Linked DNA regions of Homo sapiens: all the other regions are linked to region 1. The links come from fine-mapping of genetic effects on gene expression. A gene starts in region 1. Each other region holds a variant in brackets. All regions are shown on one strand. Distances are from middle to middle.

The links.
Region 2: its variant is fine-mapped to the expression of CLIC4 in whole blood (INTERVAL, PIP 0.96).
Region 3: its variant is fine-mapped to the expression of CLIC4 in blood mononuclear cells (TOPMed, PIP above 0.99).

Annotation. Positions count from the first base shown.
Region 1 is chr1:24,741,145-24,749,323 of GRCh38, forward strand. CLIC4 (chloride intracellular channel 4) reads left to right here and starts at 4,303. Exons shown (of 6, transcript NM_013943.3): 1 at 4,303-4,481. The coding sequence starts at 4,410. RefSeq lists enhancers at 1,794-2,399, 3,612-4,217, 4,218-4,823 and silencers at 3,905-4,614, 4,715-4,874.
Region 2 is chr1:24,765,088-24,773,266 of GRCh38, forward strand. The region is part of intron 1 of CLIC4 (chloride intracellular channel 4); the gene reads left to right. Among named protein-coding and RNA genes, the nearest start is that of CLIC4, 24 kb to the left of the region's middle. The variant CATA/C (reference allele first, on the strand shown) is at 4,068.
Region 3 is chr1:24,710,962-24,719,140 of GRCh38, forward strand. No RefSeq gene overlaps it. Among named protein-coding and RNA genes, the nearest start is that of CLIC4, 30 kb to the right of the region's middle. RefSeq lists an enhancer at 3,738-4,937. The variant A/G (reference allele first, on the strand shown) is at 3,145.

The DNA of each region.
Region 1 (8,179 bases):
CTTAACATAGACTAATTTATCAATGATCCTATTAAATATTAATAGGTACTAATTTTAGATCCATGTTTACAGACGAGAAAATGGTACTAATTTAGATCCATTTTTACTGATGAGAAAATGAAGCACAGAGAGGTTAAGTAAGTATCCTGAGTTAGTAAATAACAGAAGCAGGATTGGAACCCAGGCAGTCTGGCCCCAGAGTCCATGTGCATAGCAGCTCATTCTGCTGCTGAAATTGCAGAACTTTGGGCTGAGACAGTCAGCGAGCAGCACCACAGAGTTAGAAGTGGGAGGAGGAAAGTGTCATCAAGGGAGGCTTACTGGAGGAAAACCTGACCCCCTGTGTAGGGGCAGTCATAAACACAAACCACCTGGCTTCCCAGACTGGAAGAGCGTGACAATCCAAATGTCATGTCAGGGGTACATGAAACCATAGGATAAACATGGTACAGTCACTCACTCCATAAGCTATTTTTTTTTTTTTTTGAGACAGAGTTTCGCTCTTGTTGTCCAGGCTGGAGTGCAATGGCGCAATCTCGGCTTACTGCAACCTCTGCCTCCCAGGTTCAAGCGATTCTCCTGCCTCAGCCTCCCAAGTAGCTGGGATTGCAGGCATGCACCACCATGCCTGGCTAATTTTTTGTATTTTTAGTGGAGACGGGGTTTCTCCATGTTGGTCAGGCTGGTCTCGAACTCCCGACCTCAGGTGATCCATCCGCCTTGGCCTCCCAAAATCCTGGGATTATAGGCGTGAGCCACTGCGCCCGGCCCACTCCATAAATTTTTATTGTGTACCATGAGCTGTCCTCTGAGCCAGGAATATAGCCATAAACAAAACCAAACAAAAAATCCCTGCCCTTATGGCATTTATGTTCTAGTGGGAGAAGACAGACAATAAGCAGATAAATAGGTAGATATGTATCAGAGGGTTGTAAGTGTTATGAAGAGAGATAAAGTGGAGGGTGGAGTGAAAGATAGCAACTTGCAACGTTGCATAGGGTGGTATTTGGGGAGAGCGCTCTGAGAAGATGACATTTGAGCAAAGAGCCAAAGGAAGTAAGGGAGTGGGAGTTGCAGAAATTCTGGGGGAAGAATGTTCCAGAGAGGGGGAAGAGCAAATGCAAAGGCCCTGAGGCCACAGTGTGCTTCGCATATCCAAGGACTAGAAAGGAGGCCAGTGAAGCTGGGGTGGAGAGCACAGGGGAGAATGGTAGGAGATGAGGTCAGAGGGGTGTGTGTGGGAGGAGACAACATGTCTCCACCCATCTTAAAGATTTCTGTGTGCTATAAAAACAAGCCTGAGTAAAGAATGTAAAGCAGGCATGCAATTCAAAATTCGAAGAGGAGACTTGACTGCTATGTGGTTAGGGGGCCTCCCCTGCATAAACATCCTCTTTCCCTTTCACCCACTCCCAGGACTGACTGCCCATCCATGGGAGCCATATGAGGGCGGAACTTGGGAAACTGTAGGTGTGACTGAGACTACGTCTAAGCACAGGCTCTGGGTCTGAGCCTCTTCCTGGGGGGCTTCCTGTTGGGTAGGAGGAGCCCAGGAGATCATCACCACCTCAGGGCTCTGTGGAGAATGCCCCTGGCTTCCTCCTAGCTAAGATCTCTGTTTAGTCAATGAAGCCTAAAGGGCCCTGGTCTGTTCCTCCTTCCATACCCTGGTGCTGTGAGGCCAGTTGGAGCCTGTGAAGGGCAAGTCACCACCGGGAATATTTGCTGCCTCTAACTCAAATTCTTTTTTTTTGAGATGGATTTCGCTCTGTCGCCCAGGCTGGAGTACAGTGGCGTGATCTCGGCTCACAGCCACCTTTGCCTCCCCGGTTCAAGCGATTCTCCTGCCTCAGCCTCCCGAGTAGCTAGGATTACAGGCATGTGCCACCACACCCGGCTAATTTTTGTATTTTTAGTAAAGATGGGGTTTCGCCATGCTGGCCAGGCTGGTCTCGAACTCCTGACCTCAGGTGATCCACTCGCCTCGGTCTCCCAACGTGTTGGGATTACAGGCATGAGCCACTGTGCCCGGCCTCAATTTGATCAATTCTCAGGTACATTGAGTTTCTGCTGAATTGTTTTTTGGCTTAGATCTGCTTTGAACTGATTCACCATTTGGTTCCTTTTTGGTAGGGCAGAGAGGGTGGATTCTGGAAGGAAACTTTGCTTCAGTTCATGATTCTATGAAAAATTAACACGGTTCAGTCCAGAGTCTAGTCAGTCACTTCAGGATTTTCATGGTTCAAGCCCCCATCTAAGGGGAGCCTCCTGGAATTTATTTATTTATTTTCAACGAACTAGCCGGGCATAGAGAGAGTAGAATATGATGCCACATTCTAGCCTGCAGGGGTGGTAGGGACAGAATAAGTCTCAATGCAGTTAACAGCCATACTGACGGAGCAGCACATATGGTAAGGCAAGAATCAGTAATTAGCCCCACCCACTTCTAGATAATGAAACTGAGGCTTAGGGGTTTTAAGGACACTGCCTTGTCAGATTTGAACTTAAACAGTCAGACTACAGAGCACGTGTTCCTGACCACTGGGATACACTGGCTCTTTCACAGAGCCTCTGTGAGAAAATTTGAGCAACTTACTTTGGGCTGGCAGAGGAAGAAATTGCAAGTTTCACTGTATTTTCATGCCTACGTACAATTTGTTCAAACATTCTGGTATGTGCTAGGCACCGAGGATATGGAGACAAACCTCCCATGTCTGGGCCTCCTGGAACTCACTATTTATCCCAACCTGGGAAGTTGGGAGGAGTAGCTGTGAGTCAAGTATTATGGAAAGTCAGAAAAGGGCACAAGTAATTGTTTCCAGAGGAGGTGAAACTTGCCCCAGGCACTCAACAGCAGCAAACTAGGACCAGGTGCCTACAATCTCAAGGCAAGCACAGCTCTTGCCCTCGGGGGCTTAAATCCCAGGGCAGTTTAACTGGTTTGCGGACCACCTACTTCAGAATTGTCCTGGTGCTTGCTAAGATGTGGATTTCTCTTTTTCCCAGAGGATCTGGGAAACACAAAAAGCGGGGCTGCGTGTAGCACCTAGGTGATTCTGATGCACACTCAAATTTGACAGGTGAGCCGGGGGGAAGAAATGGGTGTGGGCAGTGGGGAACAAGATGGACAACGACTTGGAAGTCCTTAGTGGCCTGCAGGCACTGAGATTGCAGTTCAAGATCTTGAGCTTTGGGAGTTGTTACTCTCCAAGGGCTAGCTCAGAGCCTGAAACACAGTAAGGTTTCATAAATATTTGTGAATATGCGCCCGGCGCGGTGGCTCACGCCTGTAATCCCAGCACTTTGGGAGGCCGAGGCGGGCGGATCACGAGGTCAGGAGATCGAGACCATCCTGACTAACACGGTGAAACCCCGTCTCTACTAAAAATACAAAAATTAGCCGGGCGCGGTGGCGGGTGCCTGTAGTCCCAGCTACTTGGGAGGCTGAGGCAGGAGAATGGCGTGAACCCGGGGCAGAGTTTGCAGTGAGCCGAGATCGCGCCACTGCACTCCAGCCTAGGCGATAGAGCCAGACTCCGTCTCAAAAAAAAAAAAAAAAAAAATATATATATATATATATATATTTGTGAATATGCTGGCTGCCAAGATCGAAACGATCAGGAGCGTCAAAGGGAAAAACGAAGTCAGAGGCAGAAGAAAAAGGTGTTCCCCAGGCGATGAAAACTTTCCAGTAAGTTGTCTTGGAAAAGGCAACTCCGCGTAATAGAGGGACTTGGGGAGGTAGCCGCTGCGGGAAAGGGCGATGAGTCCTGGGGTGCTGCAGCGGGGGAGTGGGTAGGAGGCGCCTCCTAGCTTCCCCAGGGCGGCCGAGGCATGAGGTCACCTGGCACAGCAACAGCAGCAGCTGCGGAGGACGCGCAGGCGCTGCGGCGGGAGGCAGTGTCAGGCTCGGGCCCCTGGGGAATTCCTCCCCTCCTTTCCCCCCCGCACCAGTCCCCTAGAGAGGCGTACCCGGGTCCCGCCCGCCAGAGCCTGAGCTTTGTACCGCCCACCAAGGCCACGCCCCCTACCAGCTGTGGGGCGCCGCAGAGGTCCTTTCTTCGGCTCCGGAGCGGTCCCTCCGCCTTCCCCGCTCGAGGCCACGCCCCCGTGCTCCTGCCGCCTTATTTTCCCCGGAGAGTCCCGAGGCGCCGCGCCTTGGCCCTGCCTACAGCCCGAGGCCCCGCCCCCGGCGCCCCTCCCAGCCGTTTGAAGCGGCTCGGGCTGCGGCTGGCTCAGAGTGGCGCGGGGGGCGTGGGGCGGTGCTGAGGAGCTGAAGCCGTGGCCAGCTCGACGCCGGACAGTCCAGCGAGCAGCACGGCGGGAACCGGCAGCCGGAGCAGTCCCGGAGCAGAAGCAGCAGCAGCAGCAGCAGCCCTCGCCGTTCGCGGAGCGCAGCCGAGCCGGCCATGGCGTTGTCGATGCCGCTGAATGGGCTGAAGGAGGAGGACAAAGAGCCCCTCATCGAGCTCTTCGTCAAGGTGAGCGCTCGCCTCGCGGTCCCGCCCGGCAGATCCCCCGGCTCCCTCCCGGCTGCGGGGAGCGGCGTCCCGGGGCTCTCCTGAGGCGCCCCCGCTCGGCGCCAGCACCCGTCCCGCTGCGGGCACCCGCGCCCCCGGCCCATTGTCTGGGGGCCGCCCGCGCCTTCCCGCCTCCGAGGGCCCGTCGAGGGGTCCGGGTTGGGGACCCGGGCGGCGGCCACCGTCTCCAGCGCGTAGGCATCGGCGGACGCCAGACCAGCGTCCCGCGCCCGGGTGGGTCGGGAAGAGCCCACGGGCGGGACTTGCCTGCCCCGGGGCCCCAGCGCCGGGCGCGCGCGGGTCCTGTCACCACCCCCCGCCCGGGCGCCGGGGCCCGGCCCCACCCGCTCCCCAGCGCTCCGGTCCGCCGCCCGGAGCCCGAACTGCGGCCCGCCGCCCGATGAGCTTTCAAACGAACTTCTTTGAACGCGTTTTTGAAAAAGCATTTGCTCCCCACTGGTCTGAAACGGAAACTTTAATTTTCGATGCAATCTTAAACAAATTTACCAAAGAGCAGGTGCTCTTGGACCTTCGGAAAAGACCGAGATTCCCAACTTGTGTTTTTCTGTCTTGGGCATTTACTGGCTTTCTCGTTTCTCAAGCGCGGAGTGTTCTGTATGATGCAACATTTTGGCTTCTCCCCCCGGCGTTGCTGCTTCGGGAAGGATTGTGTGTGCCCTTTTGTTTTGAAAGAAATTGAGGGAGAGAATTCTTAACTTGCTTGGGCTTTAAAGGGTTGGTTTTCCCTTGTGTCTTCAGCTTTCATGTGTGGAATTTATTTGCTTACACATACTACCCCTCTTCCTTTGCTTTTCTCTTTAATACTTTTTATTTTAGCAAAGGAGAGAGTCGAAGTTATAAACATCTGGATCCAGCTCCTTCCCTCAAAACTTAAAAAAAACACTTTGAGCTTCTTCCAGCCACTTAAAAAGCCAGGCTCATTCAGAGCTAGGCAACATACCGGAAAGTAAATGGTCATCTAGAACTATTGGGTTCTTTTTTTTCCCCGAGTTTTTACTTTAAAGAAAGGACATTTCAGGATGTGTTTAAGAGATAGAGAAGGGCTGGGCGCGGTGGCTCATGCCTGTAATCGCAGCACTTTCGGAGGCCGAGGTGGGAGGATTACTTGAGTCCAGCCTGAACAAGATGGCGAAACCCTGTCTCTACAAAAAAATTCAAAAATTAGCTGGGAGCGATGTTACGCGCCTGTACTACTCTGGAGGCTGCGGTGGGAGAACTGCTTGAGCCCGGGAGGTCGAGGCTGCAGTGAGCCACGTCGCACCACTGCATTCCAGCCTGGGCGACAGAGCAAGACCCTGTCTCAAACAAAAGAGATGGAGAGAAGAAATAATCTGCATTTACCTCTGCAGTCTTCAGTAATGACTGGAACAGTGTTTGCCTTAGGATTTTCTTTCAATTGTCAATTTTCGATTTTTTTTTTTTTTTTTTTTTTGGTCCAGGGAACTGAAACAGCAGACAGGTATAGAACCCCCAAAATATCAAAGCGTTTCGGTTACTTTGAGTGGCAGATATAGTACTTTGAGATGCGTAGAATGTAGGAAGGAACCTGAAATACAAGAAAGGAAGGAGGCCGGGCGCGGTGGCTCACGCCTGTAATCCCAGCACTTTGGGAGGCTGAGGTGGGCAGATCACGAGGTCAGGAGATCGAGACCATCCTGGCCAACATGGTGAAACCCCATCTCTACTAAAAATACAAAAATTAGCTGGGCGTGGTGGCGCGTGCCTGTAGTCCCAGCTACTCGGGAGGCTGAGGCAGGAGAATTGCTTGAACCCGGGAGGCAGAGGTTGTGGTGTGCGGAGATTGCGCCACTGTACTCCAGCCTGGGCAACAGAGTAAGACTCCATCTCAAAAAAAAAAAAAAAAAAGAAAGAAAGGAAGGGTGGTGGGTGGAAAACAGCATGGAGAAGGGAAACAAGTGGGCCAGAGATGAGTTAAAAAAAATTTTTACTGAGTGAGGAATAGGAAGGAATTTCCATAAACTCAAAAAAAGTGCATCCATGAATAATCTGTAAAACATGATACTTAACGGTGAAACTTTAGAACAGTATTAAACTTAGAATAAGCTACTATCGGGCCGGGTGAGGTGACTCACACCTGTAGCATTTTGGGATGCCGAGATGGGGAGATCACTTGAGGCCAGGAGTTCGAGACCAGCCTGGCCAACATGGTGAAACCCTGTCTCTACTAAAAATAGAAAAATTAGCCAGGCATGGTGGTGGGCCCAGCTATTCGGGAGGCTGAGGCATGAGAATCGCTTGAACCGGGGAGGCAAAGGTTGGAGTGAGCCAAGATCAAGTCACTGCACTCCAGCCTGGGCGACAGAGTGAGACTTCGTCTCAAAAAAAAAAAAAAAAAGATAAAGCTATTATCAGTTATGGCTCTATTCAGTATTCTATTATTCTATTGGAGGAGCTAATCAAAGAAGACAAGAAAAATTAAGTATCTGAATTAGGAAGAGATCAGTGATTAATGCCCTGCTTACTATTAATTTCATCTTTCAGTTAGAATAGCAGAGGGGCGTGTGCAGTTTTCCAAACTTGAGTCACTTGCATCCCCTTTCTGTTTTTCATATTTGTGTTGAGAACCACTGAAAATCATCCTTCCTACCACTAGTTGTAAGCCTTTCTCATTGGGCTTGGTGGCAGAGAATCAGGGTTCAAGTCACAGTTCTTTACTCCTTGGTTGGGTGACCCTAGGCAGTTTGTTTTCACTCTTTAAGCCTTGTTTGTCTCATTTGTGAAATAAGAAATGTTTTCTGCTACCCAGTGATTCAACATAGGCAAACTTTGCACTGATACAGATCAGGTTTTTTGTTTTTTTTTTTTTTTTTTTTTTTAATGAGATGGTGTCTCGCTCTGTCACCCTGGCTGCTGGAGTGCAGTGGCGCGATCTCGGCTCACTGCACCCTCTGCCTCCCAGGTTGAAGTGATTCTTCTGCCTTTGCCTTCCGAGGAGCGCATGCACCACTACGCCTGGCTGATTTTTGTATTTTAGAAGAGACTGGGTTTTACCATGTTGGCCAGGCTGGTCTCAAACTCCTGACCTTAAGTGATCTGCCTGCCTTGGCCTCCCAAAGTGCTGGGATTACAGGCTTGAGCCTCTGTGCTTGGCCCCTAGACCAGTTTGTTTGAAAGGGGAAAAAAGGACAGGTAAAATGTGGTAAAGGGCATTCTTGATCTCTTCTCAAAACCTACGTGTGGGAAATGCAAATGGGGGAAATACCCTTGTAAATATAGTTATTTTGAAAGCAGTGGACCAGGTGTGGTGGCACACTCCTGTAATCCCAGCCTTTTGGGAGGCGGAGGGGGGTGGATCACTTGATGTTGAGACCAGCCTGGGCAACATGGCGAAACCGCATTTCTACTAAAAATACAAAAATTAGCCACGCATAGTGGTGCATGGCTGTAATCCCAGCTACTCGGGAGACTGAGGCAGGAGAATTGCTTGAACCTGGGAGGCGGTGGTTGCAGTGAGCCGAGATAGTGCCACTGCACCCCAGCCTGGGTGACAGAGCAAGACTCCATCTCAAAAAATAAAAATTAAAAAAAAAAAAAAGAAAGTAGAGAGGGTGCAGAGGCTGTGGTTGTCCAGAGTGGTATGTTGAACAGTGTTAACCTGCCAAGAGGTATCTGAGTTT
Region 2 (8,179 bases), 24 kb after region 1:
CACTTCTAGGAAGATCTGGTTTTCCTATATTTAGAATAGATACTGTTCCCATTGACTGTTTTCTGTTGGATTTCTTAAATGCATGAGATAGAAGAAGTATATATGGAAAAGCATTTCATATTTAATTGAAATAATATATACATTTATGGAGTGCTTTCTATGTGCCAGGCACTGTGTTGACTACATCTATGAAATATTAACTCATTTGATTGTTACTCAATAAAATGTTTGCTGAAGGAATATATAGAAGCTTTTATTTTTTTCCGTGCACAGGCTTAATTTCAGAGGAGGTTGGGAGGAAAAGAAGAACTAAAAGATCACATGATTGGGAAAAAGCAAATGCCTAACAAGAAGCCAGAGAAATAGGTCGAGAGGGTGATGCAAATGACTGGGCTCAGTTCATATTTTAGATTGAAATAAACAGATTTACTTGTTTTTCCTTGCAAAGTAAAAAAGTTTTAAGGGAGAGTCTGCAACTGTGTTTTGACCCTGAGCATGTGGCTTGATAGCCATTAAGATTAGGAGTGTTGAGAGCAGCTATTGTCCTGATGACTCAGCAGGAACCCCTGTGTTAGATTATACCGTTGCCTCCGTATTGCATGTAAAAAGTTCTTTATATCTTTTGAAATATTTGAGATCATAGATCCCAAAATCAGAGCCAGGGATGATTGTTTACTTGAAGTATCATTTGTATTTTTCTTTCCTTCTTTTTCTTCTTTCTTTCTTTCTTTTTTTTTTTTTTGAGACAGAGTCTCGCTCTGTGACCTAGGCTGGAGAGCAGTGACGCCATCTTGGCTTACTGCAACCTCCACCTTGTGGGTTCAAGCAATTCTCCTGCCTCAGCCTCCCAACTAGCTGGGATTACAGGCGCCCACCATCATGCCCGGCTAATTTTTAAAATTTGTTTAAATTTTAATTTTAGTTTTTTTTCTTTTGAGATGGAGTCTCGCTCTGTTGCCAGGATGGAGTGCAGTGGCGCGATCTCAGCTCACTGCAGCAGCCTCCACCTCCCGAGTTCCAGCTATTCTCCTGACTCAGCTTCCTGAGTAGTTGGGACTATAGACGTGCCACCACGCCCAGCTAATTTTTGTATTTTTAGTGGAGACAGGGTTACACCATGTTGGCCAGGATGGTCTCAATCTCTTGACCTCCTGTTCCACCCACCTTGGCCTCCCAAAGTGCTGGGATTACAGGTGTGAGGCACCACGCCCGGCCTATATTTTTAATAGAGACAGGGTTTCACCATGTTGGCGAGGCTGATTTTGAAATCCTGACCTCAAATGATCCACCTATCTTGGCCTCCCAAAGTGCTAGGAATATAGGCATGAGCCACTGCACCTTTTTTCTTTTTTTTAGATATCAGGTCTTGCTATGTTGCCCAGACGGTTTTTTTTTTTTTTTTTTTTTTTTTTTTTTTTTTTTTTTTTTTTTTTTGAGACGGGGTCTCACTCTGTCACCCAGGCTGGAGTGCAGTGGCACAATCTCAGCTCACTGCAACCTCCGTCTCCTGGGCTCAAGTGATTCTTGTGCCTCAGCTTCCCTAGTAGCTGGGACTACAGACATGTGCCACTGCAACTGGCTAATTTTTTTGTATTTTTAGTAGAGACATAGTTTCGCTATGTTGGCCAGGCTAGTCTTGAACTCCTGGCGTGAAGTGATCCGCCCACCTTGCCCTCCTGAAGTGCTGGGATTATAGGTGTGAGCCACCACGCCTAGCCAGTATTTCTGTCTAGGTGCTGAAATAGTTTCTTTTGGAATTGAAGACCATTTGAATTAATATTTCAAGTAGGCAATTGAGTCATCATAATGGAAGACTGGATCTTTAGTATTATGCTGTTAGAGTATGCAGTGTCCAGTCTTTTGGCTTCCCTGGGCCACACTGGAAGAAGAATTACCTTGGGCCACACAAAAAATACACTAACAATAGCTGATGAGCTAAAAAAAAAAAAAAAAAAAAAAAAGAAAAAGAAAAGAAAAACCAAAAAAACCTTATAATGTTTTAAGAAAGTTTATGGATTTGTGTTGGGCTTCATTCAAAGTGGTCCTGGGCCACATGTGGCCCACGGACCTCAGGTTGGACAAGCTTGATGTAGTGGCTAAGAGTGTGGACTCCCGAGCCATGTGGCCTGTGTTTGAATCCTAGTTCTACCCTTCACTAGTTGCCTTGGTGTCCCCACTGGGGTAATCTTGGGCTTTTGTAAAGATTATAAGAGTTAATATAAGAAAAGCCCTTAGAGTCTAACTCATAGTAAGCCTTGTTTGCTTACTATTTTGCCTTTAGGAATGCAGAATTAAGACCATGTTGGCTTGGCCTATGGTTAGTTTATTATATTCAATATACCATATGTGGTTTCAACCTTCAGGATTAGAAGCATCTGCCAGACTGCCACTACCACCAGGTGGGAACTTTTCATTCTTTATCAAAAGAGCAGGGTTAGTACAAAAAAAGTTCAAGGTTAAGCTTGAGTTTGCTCTTGAATTAACTTCAGTGAACCCTGATCCTGTTGACACTTACTAGGTAACTAAAGGACAGTCAGATTGGACTCTGCCATCTTAGTCCATCGGCCTCAGCAGCTCTTGCTGGACTTGTAGCTAAAGCTTGAGAGTCCATTAGTAGTGAGAATGTTTTTCTTTTTTTCCTCTCTCTCTTTTTTGTTAATGTGAAAGTGCAAAAGTAAAGAGGAATAATCTATGACATAGGATCTTATTGGTTCTGTACAAATACTCTTAATTAAAAATTTTTAATTAAAATTATATATATATATATTTTTTTTGGCATGGAGTTCCGCTCTGTCGCCCAGGCTGGAGTGCAGTGGCATGATCTCGGCTAACTACAACCTCTGCCTCCCAGGTTCAAGCAGTTCTGCCTCAGCCTCCCGGGTAGCTGGGATTACAGGCGCTTGCCACCACGCTTGGCTAATTTTTGTATTTTTAGTAGAGACGGGATTTCTCCATGTTGGTCAGGCTGATCTCGGACTCCTGACATGAGGTGATCCGCCCTCCTTGGCCTCCCAAAGTGTTGGGATTACAGGTATGAGCCACCACGCCCAGCCAAAATTTTCATTTTTTTAAGATATGGGGATCTTGCCATGTTGCCCAGGCTGGTCCCAAATTCCTGAACTCAAGTAATCCCCTTGTGGTGGCGTCCCAAAGTGCTGGGTAAAAGTACTTTTGAATTATGGATTTTGGCTTCCTGTGCTACCAAATTTCACTATTTCTTGATTTTTGTGGTATTCACCTTTACAACTGAACAGGTCATATATTAACTAGCCTTTATCTAATGCTTTCTTTAAAGGAAATGTAGACGTGCTTATATTTTTAACACATCTACATTTCTCTTAAAGAGAAGAGATTAAGCTCTTTTTATTTAATTTGTCTGGAAGAAGTTGAGATAGTGTAGATCTACAGGTTTTATATTTAGTAATTTTTAAGGAGTAAAAATGAAGTCTTCTAATTTTTCTAGACTCTATCTAAGATTATTGTTTTTAGACTTTTTCATCTTATACCACAATGAGATGATAAAGCTTAAAACATTAACATGTCGGCCGGGTGCGGTGGCTCACGCCTGTAATCCCTGTACTTTGGGAGGCTGAGGCGGTCAGTCAGGAGTTCGAGACCAGCCTGGCCAAGATGGTGAAACCCCATCTCTACTCATAATACAAAAATTAGGAGGCATGGTGGCATGTGCCTGTAGTCCCAGCTACTCGGGAGGCTAAGGCAGAAGAATCACTTGAACCCAGGAGGTGGAGGTTGCAGTGAGCCGAGATTGTGCCACTGCACTCCAGCCTGGGCGACAGAGTGAGACTCTGCCTCACCAAAAAAAAAAAAAAAAAGAAAAAGAAAGAAAACTTTAGCATGTCTGTAATTGGTAGATATAATCTCTATCATTTATTTAATGATAATTAAAAATAGCGGGGCATGGTGGCACATGCCTGTGGTCTCAGCTACTAGTGGGGCTGAAGCAGGAGATTGAGGCTGTAGTGAGCCACTCTGATTGCACCACTCCACTCCAGCCTGGGTGGCAGAGTGAGACTCTGTCTCAAAACAAAAGAAAACAAACAAAAAAA[CATA/C]ATGTAAGAATCATGAAGTGACTTTAAAATCTTTATTTTATAATAATGTTATAAGTTTTCTGAAGCTACTTAATTTATCACTATACAGAATAAACAGATATATAAAAAATGATCAGTAAGTTTTTGTTTCCCTACTAAAGCCAGAATAATGGTCATGAGGTAATAGATAGCATTGGGTGCTTACTATGGGCCAGGCACAGTGTGCCAGCCGTTTGCATGTGTTAGCTAATTTAATCCTCATATAAACTTTGAAATAGGTGCTATCAATACTGTTTAACACATGAGAATTAGAGAGATCATTGTTTGGGTATGGTTGCAGGGCCAGTAAGTAGCAGTACTGTGATTTGTACTAACGTCTTTGGGATTTCAGAACCTGAATCAATAACTTTGTTTATGTTATTTTTCTCTATTTATTTGAAACTTGAATGCTTTCCTAACAGAATTTCTTATGTTCTGTTTTCAGTCACCCTGAAAAAAAAATTCTGAGAATATTTAAGGATATTTCTAAAACATACTAACAACTAGTGAGCCTAGATGGTTCATTAGATGACTTTGGTTGCTTTCAGTTCTCTTGGTAAAATTTGAAAGGCAACTAAAATTTCCATTACCTCACCTCGTTGCATTTTGGGGGCCTGGTTAATTAGTATTTTATAAAGCACTTTAGAGGGTTTATTTATAAACTTGTTAAGGAACCTGACTTGAATGTCTTTTTTTTTTTTAAGGCAGAGTTTCACTGTTGCCCAGGATGGAGTGCAGTGGTGTCATCACAGGTCACTGCCACCTTGACCTCCTGGGCTCAAGTGATCCTCCTCCTTTAGCTCCCTGAGTAGCTGGGACTTGCAGTGCCACCATGCCCAGCTAATTTTTTTTAAATTAATTTTTTTGTGGAGATGAGGTCTCACTGTGTTGCCTAAGATGGTCTTGAACTCCTGGACTCAAGTTATCCTCCCACTTTGGCCTCCCATTACAGGCATGAGCCATTGTGCTTGGCCTCACATATTTTGATTTTAGGATTGTTTTCCAATTGAGAAATGTCTAAATGGTTCAAGTTTAACAAAAATCATATACTAATTTGTTAATTATTTTTCTGTGAGTTCTTTTCTTTCTGCCCTCTCCCTTTCTCCCTTCCTCCCCCTTCAGAGGTTGGTAGAAAAAAAAAAAAAAGGCAAGGAAGTTTCTTTTTGTGGAGAGAGGAAATGACTGTTGGTTCAAGACTTTATCCATATTAGGTATAAACTAAATATAGACGTGTAATCCAGGAGTGAAGTCACATCTATAAAGTTTCTTAAGCAAAGCTAATGAGATCAGCCAGTGCTTTTGGATCTGTTTTTTCCCCCCTTGCTTTTGGCTCACTTACCAAACTGATTAGTCTTATAGTCTGCCTGCCTTTGCTTCTTTAAAAAAAGAATAAAAAAATTATAAGGAATCTTTCTGTAAAACAAGCACACAAATTTTTAAAAAGTTGCTTTGTATATGAAGCATAGTCACTTATGCCTCCCTTTGAGGGGAGGTTATAAATAAATTAGCTTCTTTAATTTCTTGACCTTGTCATTTTCCTCACACCAATTCTTCTTCTTTTTTTTTTGTTTTTTGAGTTGGTTTTATCCTTGAGTCTTTGTCACATATTTTTACTGTGAGGCTGGACTCATCTTTGTAAGTTGTAAGAAACGTGTTTTACTTAGTATTTTCTTGGTTTATTCCATTTTTAACCATTAAAGCAGATCTCAGTATGGCTAAATGGTAATAGGATTTCTTCTGATTGGCTGGTTAGAGAGATTGTAATAGAACGGAATGATGGAATAAATCTGCTTCTGGTCACAGCACATGTCCTTCTCAAATAAGGACTTTGAAAAGTCCCCCAAAGCATTCTTACAATAATTATTTCCAACTCTTGTGTTCCTTCTTAGAGCCCTTTGCAAGCATTCCTAAACACTCAAGCCCTTACGAACGTGCTATGCTTCTGAAGAGAAGAACTATATACACACATCTGTGGCGCATCTTACTATAAATACTTTGGAATACAACTAATTGTGTAAAAAGTTTAGCTTAACATATTTCGGGGTTTTAGGGATCAGTTCATGAAACTAAATGTTCTCCAAGCCTAAGTTGGAATCTGTTCTGAATCCTTCTCTGACCATGTTGTTCCCTTAGCAGAACTACTCTTTCCTACTGTTTGGGGCAGTTTGTGCATTTTTATATTCTGCCACTCATCTGAATCACCTTTAATTACATTTTTGTTCCAGGCTAGAATGTAAATTCCAGGAGATCAAGGATAAGGGATTATTTTCTTTTTTCTTCTTTTTATATTTTAAATTTAAAAAATTATTATGTTCTTCTAAAGACTAAGGGACTATTTTCTTCATCTTTTATATCTACCCCCTACCACAAACCTTTATATATAGGAGATAATTCATTAATTCAGTAAGCATTTATTAGTGTTTTTTGGCAAATTGGTGTGCATAGTATAGGAATATAAGCATGTAAGAGAGAATATATTAAATATTTTCTGTTATTGTGTTCTATATTACCTCATAGTAAAATACCAGAGTTAAAAGTAGTATTCAGTTATTGAACTTGAGACATGTAATTGGGGTTTTGTAACTAGCTACTCACTATATAGCTATTGGTCTAAACCTAACAGATTGGTTTAGAGAACTAGAATATTATGTAACTGGAAGGCCAGGTTCAAGTCCTATGTGTATCCTAATTGATCTGCTACCTCATCTGTCAAGTGGGTGTATTTCTTGGAGGTGATGTTCAGTCCAGTTTGTATTATTTTATATGCCAAGGTAGCCTTAGGCTTGGCTTAAGCTTAGGCTTAGGCAGAAAGTTGAGCCCTGAGATTCCAACGTCAGATCCAGAGAATTAAATTCTCATAATTAGAAGCAATCTATTAGATAACAAAAATAGAGCCAATACAAATTCTTCATGATAATGGAGGCAGTTTGCCAAAGAAAGAAAAAATATTTCAGGAGTGAATTCTTTGACCCGAAAGAATATATTTTATTTCCCAGGTGAGCTCCTGAAAGAAAGTTTAAGGAAAGATTTTGTTTGTTGTATCTAAAATAAAGCAGACACAGAACCATTCTTCTTCTTCTTTTTTTTTTAAAGCCAGTCAAATTTATAGAATTTTCCTTCATCATATTTGAGTAACCTGTGCATTGAAATCCGAAGTAAAATATTTCAGTAAGAAACATCCTGCTATGTTATACTCTTCAGATATTTGAAGTTTTAGGCCAGCAAAGAAGATAGACAAGAATTCTGAATATTAACTTTCACAGCTGAAATACAGTGTTGAATATATAATTTTTGCGGAAACTAATTTTGTAATGTATATATATAGAGAGAGACGGAGTCTTGCTCTCTCGCCCAGGCTAGAGTGCAGTGGCACGATCTCAGCTCACTGCAGTCTCCGCCTCCCAGATTCAAGCGATTCTCCTGCCTCAGCCTCCTGAGTAGCTGGAATTACAGGTGCCCGCCACCGTGTCCAGCTAATTTTTGTATTATTAGTAGAGACGGGGTTTCACCATCTTGGCCAGGCTGGTCTTGAACCCCTGACCTCATGATCCACCCACCTTGGCCTCCCAAAGTGCTGGGATTACAGGTGTGAGCCACAGCGCCCGGCTGATTTTGTAATATATTTTAATGAACATTTAAAAATACATAATCCAAAATTAAAACAAATGAGGAAGATTCATTAATTTATTCATGTTTGTTGAGAGCTAATATTTTATACTATTAATAAAATATTGTATAGCATTTTCATGATTGCAGTTTTTCATTGTTTATGGTCATCTTCATTAATCCATTGTTCTTAGTCATTTAGAGGTCTGAAATTTGGCTTTAAGCAATATTGTGATATATATCCTTACAGCCAATTTTCTGTGCATGTCAAGCAATTGTGTTTTAAAAGTCCCCCACATATCTCATTTACCCTCTGAATTCTTTATTTTCCTTTTGTTTACTTAAACTGTAATCTCTCTTTTTTCACACTTCACCTGGAATGTAATCTCTTAAAAAGAAAAAACTTTCTGCAGAATTTAGGTTTTTTACAAAGGGAAAATTGGATTTTTGACTCTACTACTGAACTCTTGGTGGAGTGTCTAGTT
Region 3 (8,179 bases), 30 kb before region 1:
GGTGTGAGCCACCACGCCCAGTCCCCCCATCTTTTTTTTTTTTTTTTTTTGAGACAGACTCTCACTCTGTCACCTAGGCTGGAGTGCAGTGGCATGATCTTGGCTCACTGCAACCTCCACCTCACGGGTTCAAGCGATTCTTCTGCCTCAGCCTCCTGAGTAGCTGGGACTACAGGCATGTGCCACCACACCTGGCTAATTTTTGTGTTTTTAGTAGAGATGGGGTTTCACTATATTGGCCAGGCTGGTCTCAAACTCCTGACCTCGTGATCCACCCACCTCTGCCTCCCAAAGTGTTGGGATTACAGGCGTGAGCCTCTGCGCCCGGCCTCGGCCCATGTTCTTACAGTAAAAGCTTTGAGGAGTCTGAAACCCAAATTCCATGTATTCATATCCTTGTTCATGCATTCATGTATTCATTCAATTTGCTCACTTAGCCAGCCATTCAGCAGGTAGAGTTATGCTTAAGAGAGGACCCTAGAACCAGACTACCTAGGTTCAAAATCCAGCTCTATCTCTTACTAGGTGCATGGCCTTGGGCAAGTGACGTCATCTCTTTTTCTTTATCTCCAAAGCGGGGATGATAATAACAGTACCAATATTATTGTAAAGATTAAAAGAATGAATACCTGGAAAATTCAGACCACTGGCTGTGGTGGCTCATACCTATAGTCCCAGCTACTTGGGAGGCTGAAGCAGGAAAATCGCTTAAGCCCAGGAGTTCAAGGCTGCAGTGAGCTATGATTGTGTCACGGCACTCTGGCCTGGGTGACAGAGAGAGACCCTGTCTCTATAAAACAAAATCAGGCCGGGCATAGTGGCTCACACCTGTAATCCCAGCACTTTGGGAGGCCAAGGCAGGCAGATCACCTGTTCAAGAGCAGCCTGGCCAACATGATGAAATCTCCTTTCTACTAAAAATACAAAAAGTAGCCGGGTATGGTGGCACATGCCTGTAATTCCAGCTACTCCGGAGGTTGAGGCAGGAGAATCGCTTGAACCCAGGAGGCAGAGGTTCCATGAGCCAAGATCATGCCACTGCACTCCAGCCTGGGAGACAGAGCGAGACTCCATCTCAAAAAGCAAAACAAAACAAAACAAAAATTCAGATCAATGCTTGGAACATAAAAACCTATAGATATTACTTATTAATACTCAATACTTTTTTTTTTTTTTTTTGAGATGGAGTCTTGTTGCTCTGTCATCCCGGCTGGAGTTGCAGTGGCACGATTTTGGCTCACTGCAACCTCCCCTCCGCCTCCCAGGTTCAAGCAATTCTCCTGCCTCAGCCTCCCAAGTAGCTGGGACTACAGGCAAGCGCCACCACACCCGGCTAATTTTTGTAATTTTTTTTTTTTTGAGACGGAGTCTCGCTCTGTCGCCCAGGCTGGAGTGCAGTGGCGTGATCTTGGCTCACTGCAACCTCCACCTCCTGGGTTCAAGCAATTCTCTTCCTCAGCCTCCCGAGTAGCTGGGACTACAGGCGCCCACCACCATGCCCAGCTAATTTTTGTATTTTTATTAGAGATGGGGTTTCACCATGTTGGTCCGGCTGCTCTCGAACTTCTGATCTCATGATCCACCCACCTAGGCCTCCCGAAGTGCTGGGATTACAGGCGTGAGCCACCGCACCTGGCTAATTTTTGTAATTTTTTTTTAGTAGAGACAGGTTTCACCATGTTGGCCAGGCTGGTCTCGAACTCCTGACCTCAAGTGATCTGCCTGCCTCAGCCTCCCAAAGTGCTGGGAATACAGGTGTGAGCCACTGTGCCTGGCCTCAATAAATAATGTTTTGAGCACCTACTATGCAGCTGGCTCCATGCTGCACTGAGGATACAGTAGTGCAGAAGACAGAGAGAAGACCTGCTCCATGACACTGACATTCTAGTCCTTATTCAGCACCAAGATCCTAAGTTTCCTTGGTTTTCTTTCGGATGTCTTGTCCCATTTGATTTTTAGAAAGACCCCATGAGGTTAGAGCAACCTTACCCCATTTGACAGAGGTGGAAACTGAGGCCCAGACAGGAGAACCGATGTCCTTTTTGCACAGTGCCTCAGCCGGCTGCCATGAATATGTGTGTCCGTTTGACAAAGGCATGGGGATAGGAGTGGTCAGGAGGCTCCATGTCTCCCATCAGCCAGCTGTTCTTCCTCTGCCTGGAGCCCTTCCAGTGACCCAGCTCTCAAATGTGGCCAACCTCTTGCCCCTGAGCGGGATCTCTGTAGCCCTCTCATGGCAGAGGTCCTGGAGGTGCGAAGTAGGGGTACCGTGCCCAGGCTGCCCCTCTCCCCACTTGGTCTCCTACGTGCAGTGGACATTTTTCCACTTGGTGTGACCACACAAAAACTCCACCCAACATCATCTTCATGGATGCCTAAAATTCCACCATCCATGATTCATTCTTTTAGGTTGAACAACTGCTCCCAGGAATGTCTGAAATTCCCTGGAATCAGTTGCTAACACCTTAGTGAGCTAAAAACTGGCCTTACAGATAATCATCTACCTTCTGTAGACAACTCTGGACCAGAAGAAGAAGTGACTTGCCCAAGGACACGTAACCTTGGGCAGTCAGTCAGTGGCAAGCCAGGGCCAGAGGCTGGCCTTGCTCACACATTTTCCTGGGACAGGAGGAACAGAGCCATATACGATGTTCCCTTGAATCACATCTACTTTGCAGCCTGCAGAGAGCCTCCCCACCCAGAGCCCACTTGATTCAGGCAATCCCTATGAGCTGGGCATGAGTCCCTCTCCCAGGCACAGTGGCTCACATAGACATGGGGATGCCACAGGGACCTAGCCCAAACGTCCATTGCTGGATCCCTGGAGTGAGGTTTCTGGTCTATCCAAGGCCTAGTTTAGCTCCTCCTTCCGTTCTACCGGCAGCCCCAGATTCTTCCACTGCCTTCCTTTTTTTTTTTTTTCAGTAAGCTCAAGTTGGTTTCTCTTGCTTCTAAAGAACTCTAATTGAAATTCCCACTTTACAGATAAGGAGACCAAGATGTGAAGAGGAAAGGTGAATGCTAAGGTGGAGCCAGGCCTGCAACCCAGGTCTCCTATCTCCTGGCCCAGGCTTTTGCCTCCTGCCACGTTGCCTACTGTGAGCAGTTGGGTCCCGAGGAAAGAGAAGAGCAGAGAGGAGTGTG[A/G]GTGCATAAGCCTGAAGATAGAGGGTACAGTGGTTCATTGAGAGATTTTGGAGTCAGCAGATCTGATCTTACACTTACCTGTTATGAAGATTTTGACAAGTAATTTCATCTTCTCAGAGCCTAACTTCCCAGCTATAACATAAGAAAAAGAGGACCTTCTTATAGTAGACACAGACCCAACAGGAGCAGAGTGGGTGAGTAGAGCACTGGGTGGATTTTAGCCTTCACATACTCATCTATGGCTGGGTACCTTTGTGCAGTGAACAATCTGGGCAACAGTACATGACAGCCCTGAGAATAATGATAATACCTGCCTTACATGGATGTTATAAAAACTAAATGAGATAAGGTATGTGAAGTTCTGGGCACAGTGCTTAACCACTTAATAAGTCTTCAATAAACAGTAGCTAAGTATTTTGACACCATCACCCCAGGCTCCGTCTGGAAGGCTCTGGAAGGCAGTCTGTGGTGAAATGGCAAGTCCCAAACTCCCCACTTTCTTACCACCAACTCCCAAACCTCATAATTTTCCTGGATGGCCTCAGTGTCCTGCCTCTCCCTCCAGAGTTCTGTGGGGTTGGCTGGACCACCAGGAACAGAGTTCTGGCATTTTCTATCACATCACAGCTTTCAGTTTGGTAAAAGCCCCCGATATATCAGGGCCCAACTGGCAAGTCCCTCCTGCTCCAAAGTTTTGAAGGTTCCAGGGTCAAGCCTTGGCCCCCAGCCTCCTCCCTCAGACCTGAGGCCGAGCATAGTATATTCAGGGGCCTAGCTGCAGCAGGTCCTGAAACCTGCTACAGCAGTCCAAGCCCCCTCAGTCCTCCTCTTTCATTTCTGAGCAGGCCCAAGCACCCAGCACCAAGAATGGCTGGACTTAGGGACTCTGGGAGAGCCACGTGTGCCAGGCTAGTGCCTGCCAGCTCTTAGGCTGATCTTACAATGGCTCCATTCACCAGGGAGAGGAGCTGGCCTGCCTGGAGCCCACGGGGTGATGTTCCAGGCCCCAGGGGGATGGGGTGGGAGGTTAGAAACTAAGAAAGCGGTTGTTAAGGCTGGGAGGGGTGAAGGTGCCCAGCCTCCACCACTACCAGCACCTTATGACAAGGTGACCACCTCACAACTGGGACCATGAGAGATCAGATTCTCTGGGGCCCAGTGGGGGTGAGTAAGTGCGGGGGCAGATGGAGGGAAAGAGTTAGTCATGGGCATTGCGGGGCAGGGAGGCTGGGCCCTTAGCCCACGCTCTTGCTGGCATCTGAAGGCCCGTAGCCAGGGGGTGACGTGGTCTTGGTCCTTGAAGCAGCCCTTCCAGTAACAACTGGGGCATCCCAGCCAGGCAGCCTTTGCCTCTCCCCCTCCTCTCCATGCCTGCTACCCCAGGTCTCCAGGATCTCTCAAAGAGATTTTCATCTACAAACATCTCTGTCTCCATCATCTCTCCCTTCTTCACTCACAAAGCCCAAGTTGAGTCCAAACTGCTCTGTCCTCAAATTAAAGCCCTCACTGACTCCTCACTACCTAAAAGACCATGACCTCAGTGTTCAGGCTGTCATCTTGCCCACTCAGCATCCATTCCTTTTCCATATGAGCTCCAAGTCTCTCTATTTCTGGGGAAGCACCTGGGCCCCCACTCTCAGTCCATATGTTTCGAGTGGAGCTCAGGCCTAGAATTAGACATGTGACCCCAACTTGATCAATCCGATTGTTCCACCTCCACTCCCACCACCTCTATACAGCAATTGGTTTAGACATAGTCACGTGACCTAAACCAGTCCAATGAAATTCAAGTTCAGAACCTGTGTATAAATGTTTGGAGAAATGGGCCGGGCGCTGTGGCTCACGCATATAATCCCAGCACTTTGGAAGGCCAAGGCGGATGGATCACCTGAGGTCAGGACTTTGAGACCAGCCTGGCCAACATGGTGAAACCTTGTCTCTACTTAAAATACAAAAAATTACCTGGGCGTGGTGGTACGCACCTGTAATCCCAGATACTCCGGAGGCTGAGGCAGGAGAATTGCTTGAACCCGGGAGGCAGAGGTTGCAGTGAACCGAGATCACGCCATTGCACTCCAGACTGAGGGACAAGAGCAAGACTTCATTTCAAAATAAATAAATAAATAAATATCTGGAGAAATGAATCTTTCTTTGCCCTGGGCTTGGAGCCTCCATTTGGAAAGGGCCTGCTTCAGAGTGAAGCCAATGCAAGGAGAAGCAGAGAGGAGCAGAGAAGAAGAGAGAGAGGCCAAGTCTTGAAAGCATTTATTTGAGCTATACCTGAAGCAAATACACTAATATACTCTATTGTTTTTTCTTTTTAACTTTCATTCTCAAAGGAGGTGAATGTTCAGTTTTTTGAGTCAACGGATTTTCTTTTTTCCTAAGCTTCTTGGAATTGCGTTTTCTGTCTCTCGCAACCCAGGAGTTCTGACCAACAGAAAGGCCCTCCTACTCTGACCTTGAACCACTTCTGCAGTCTCATCGGCCCTGCCTGGGGCATATGGAACTCTCCACTCCCCTGAATGCCCCATGTGCCTTGTGATTCTCTGCACTTGCTCCTGCTAGGCCCTCTGTCTGGGGTGGATTCACTTTTCCTGTTTTGAACTTGCTCAGCTTTTTTTTTTTTGAGACAGAGTCTTGCTCTGTCGCCCAGGTTGGAGTGCAGTGGCGCAATCTCAGCTCACTACAACCTCCGCTTCCCGGGTTCAAGTGATTTTCCTGCCTCAGCCTCCCAAGTAGCTGGGACTACAGGCATGCACCACCATGCCCGGCTAATTTTTGTATTTTTGGTAGAGATGGGGTTTCACCATGCTGGTGAGGGTGGTCTCAAACTTGAATCACTCAGGTGATCCACTCGCCTCGGCCTCCCAAAGCGCTAGGATTACAGGCGTGAGCCACCGTGCCAGGCCTTGCTCAGTTCTTAAAGGTCCAGTTCAAATGCCAGTTCCTCCATGGAGCCTTCCTCAACTGCTTCCCAGGGAGAATTTACTATTTGCACCTGTCTTCAGCACTATAGAGCCATTATTTCACTGTATCATAGTGATTCACTTGCCCATCCATCTCCCCCACTGGATTGTTGAGCTTCATGAACTGTGTGTGCTTTCTTTCTCCTTTCTCAATACCTAGTACCTGACCTGGCACAGAGTAGGCGCTCGGAATCCTGTGTCCAGTGACTTGAATATCCATCAGACTGGATGTTAGAGCTGTGGGGATGTGGCACTCACCCTGGAACTACTACTAGTTGCTATGCAGCCCATTCCCATCTCTGTGAACAACCTGAATTGTCCACCTTCCTTCAATCTAAAAATTCTACTCATCCATCAAGGAGCTCAATGCCCTGAGTATGTGAGGAGAGGGCTGCTTTGGAGTTGGACAGACTTGAGTTCAAGTCCTGGCTCTTCCATGTGGTACTCATGTGACGTAGGCCAAGTCATATAACTTTCTTGAGCTTCAGTTTCCATAAAATGGCAAACACATGGTGCTCATTATGTGCTGTGCCCATATCCTAATACTTCTAGTTCTTTTATCCTCCCTATGAGGTGTAGGTACCAGTCTCGTCCTCTTCCCAGTGATAAAGAGACTGAGGTCCAGAGAGGTTAAGTAAGCAAGGCCATGACTAGGACAGAGCCTTGGACAGACCTAGTGGCCGGGTAGGGGATGGAACCCAGGCAGCCTCTGCTCCAAGTCAATGCTCTTACCCCTCTACTGTCCTGCCTCTTGAAAAATGAGGATAGTACTAGAACCTTCTTCTTGGGGTACTTGTGAAATTTCACCTTCACATAATGTGTGTGGAGGGTACAGTAGAGCTGAAGCCCTTGCTGTTGGCACCGCGGTGTTCTCAGCCTAGTGGAGTCTAATCTTTCCAAAGAATCCTGGACTTTAGGGTCAAGCTGGAGGGAGGGGGGAGGTGGCTAGTCTAGCACAGCATCCACTTGGCTGTGGCTGCTTGGCAGAAGGACCCTGCTCATAATGCCCATTTGTCCAGACCGTAGTTCAATGACTTCTGCATTCTCTGCACGTACACCCTAGAAGGGATGGGATGGATGGGGGATGGCACTGGCTCTAGCCTGGCCAGGGAAAGCCAGCTGGGAATTAAGAGGTCTTGGGCAGCAGGACAACCCTGTGTCGAGAAACCTCAACTCTGCCACTGCCTAGAAGTGAGACCCTGGGTAAATCACACAACCTCCCTGGGGCTCAGTTCCTTCATCTGTGAAATGCGGACCTTAATGGTACCTCCTTCATCGGGTGGTGTGAGGAAGAAGATGTATTTTGCAAGTATGTTGTGGATATTCAGTAAAAGACAGTTAATGATCAGCCTCATGCTACTGTTTGGTTAGCCAGGCTGGCTGGGGTTCAATCTTGGCTCTACCATTTCCTAGTCATGTGATCTCAACTAAGTTACTTAACTTCTTGGCTCAGTTCCTCCCTGGTAAATTGGGAACAATCAAAAAACAATAATACAATAGCAGCTATGTGCCCCTCACAAAAAAGCGATCCCCAATTTTTAGTGATCCCAAGCAGCTCCCTGCCCCTCCCCAAGGCGTCAGTTTCCCTATTTGTTCAGGGAATTTTTTTTTTTCTTCTTGAGACGGAGTTTCACTCTGTTGCCCAGGCTGGAGTGCAGTGGCATGATCTCAGCTCACTGTAACCTCCGCTTCCCAGGTTCAAGCGATTCTCATGCCTCAGCCTCCCAAGTAGCTGAGATTACAGGTGTGCGCCACCACACCTGGCTACTTTTTGTATTTTTAGCAGAGATGGGGTTTCAGCATGTTGGCCAGGCTGGTCTTGAACTCCTCACCTCAAGTGATCTGCCTACCTCGACTTCCTAAAGTGCTGGGATTACAGGCGTGAGCCACCGTGCCTGGCCGGAACTTTTTTTAAAATAGAGACAGGGTTGGGCTCTGTCACCAGGATGGAATGCAGTGGTGCAATCATAGCTCCTGGGCTCAAGGAATCTTTCCGCCTCAATCTCCTGAGTGGCTAGGACTACAGGCATGTACCACCACACCCAGCTGATTTTAATTTTTCTTGG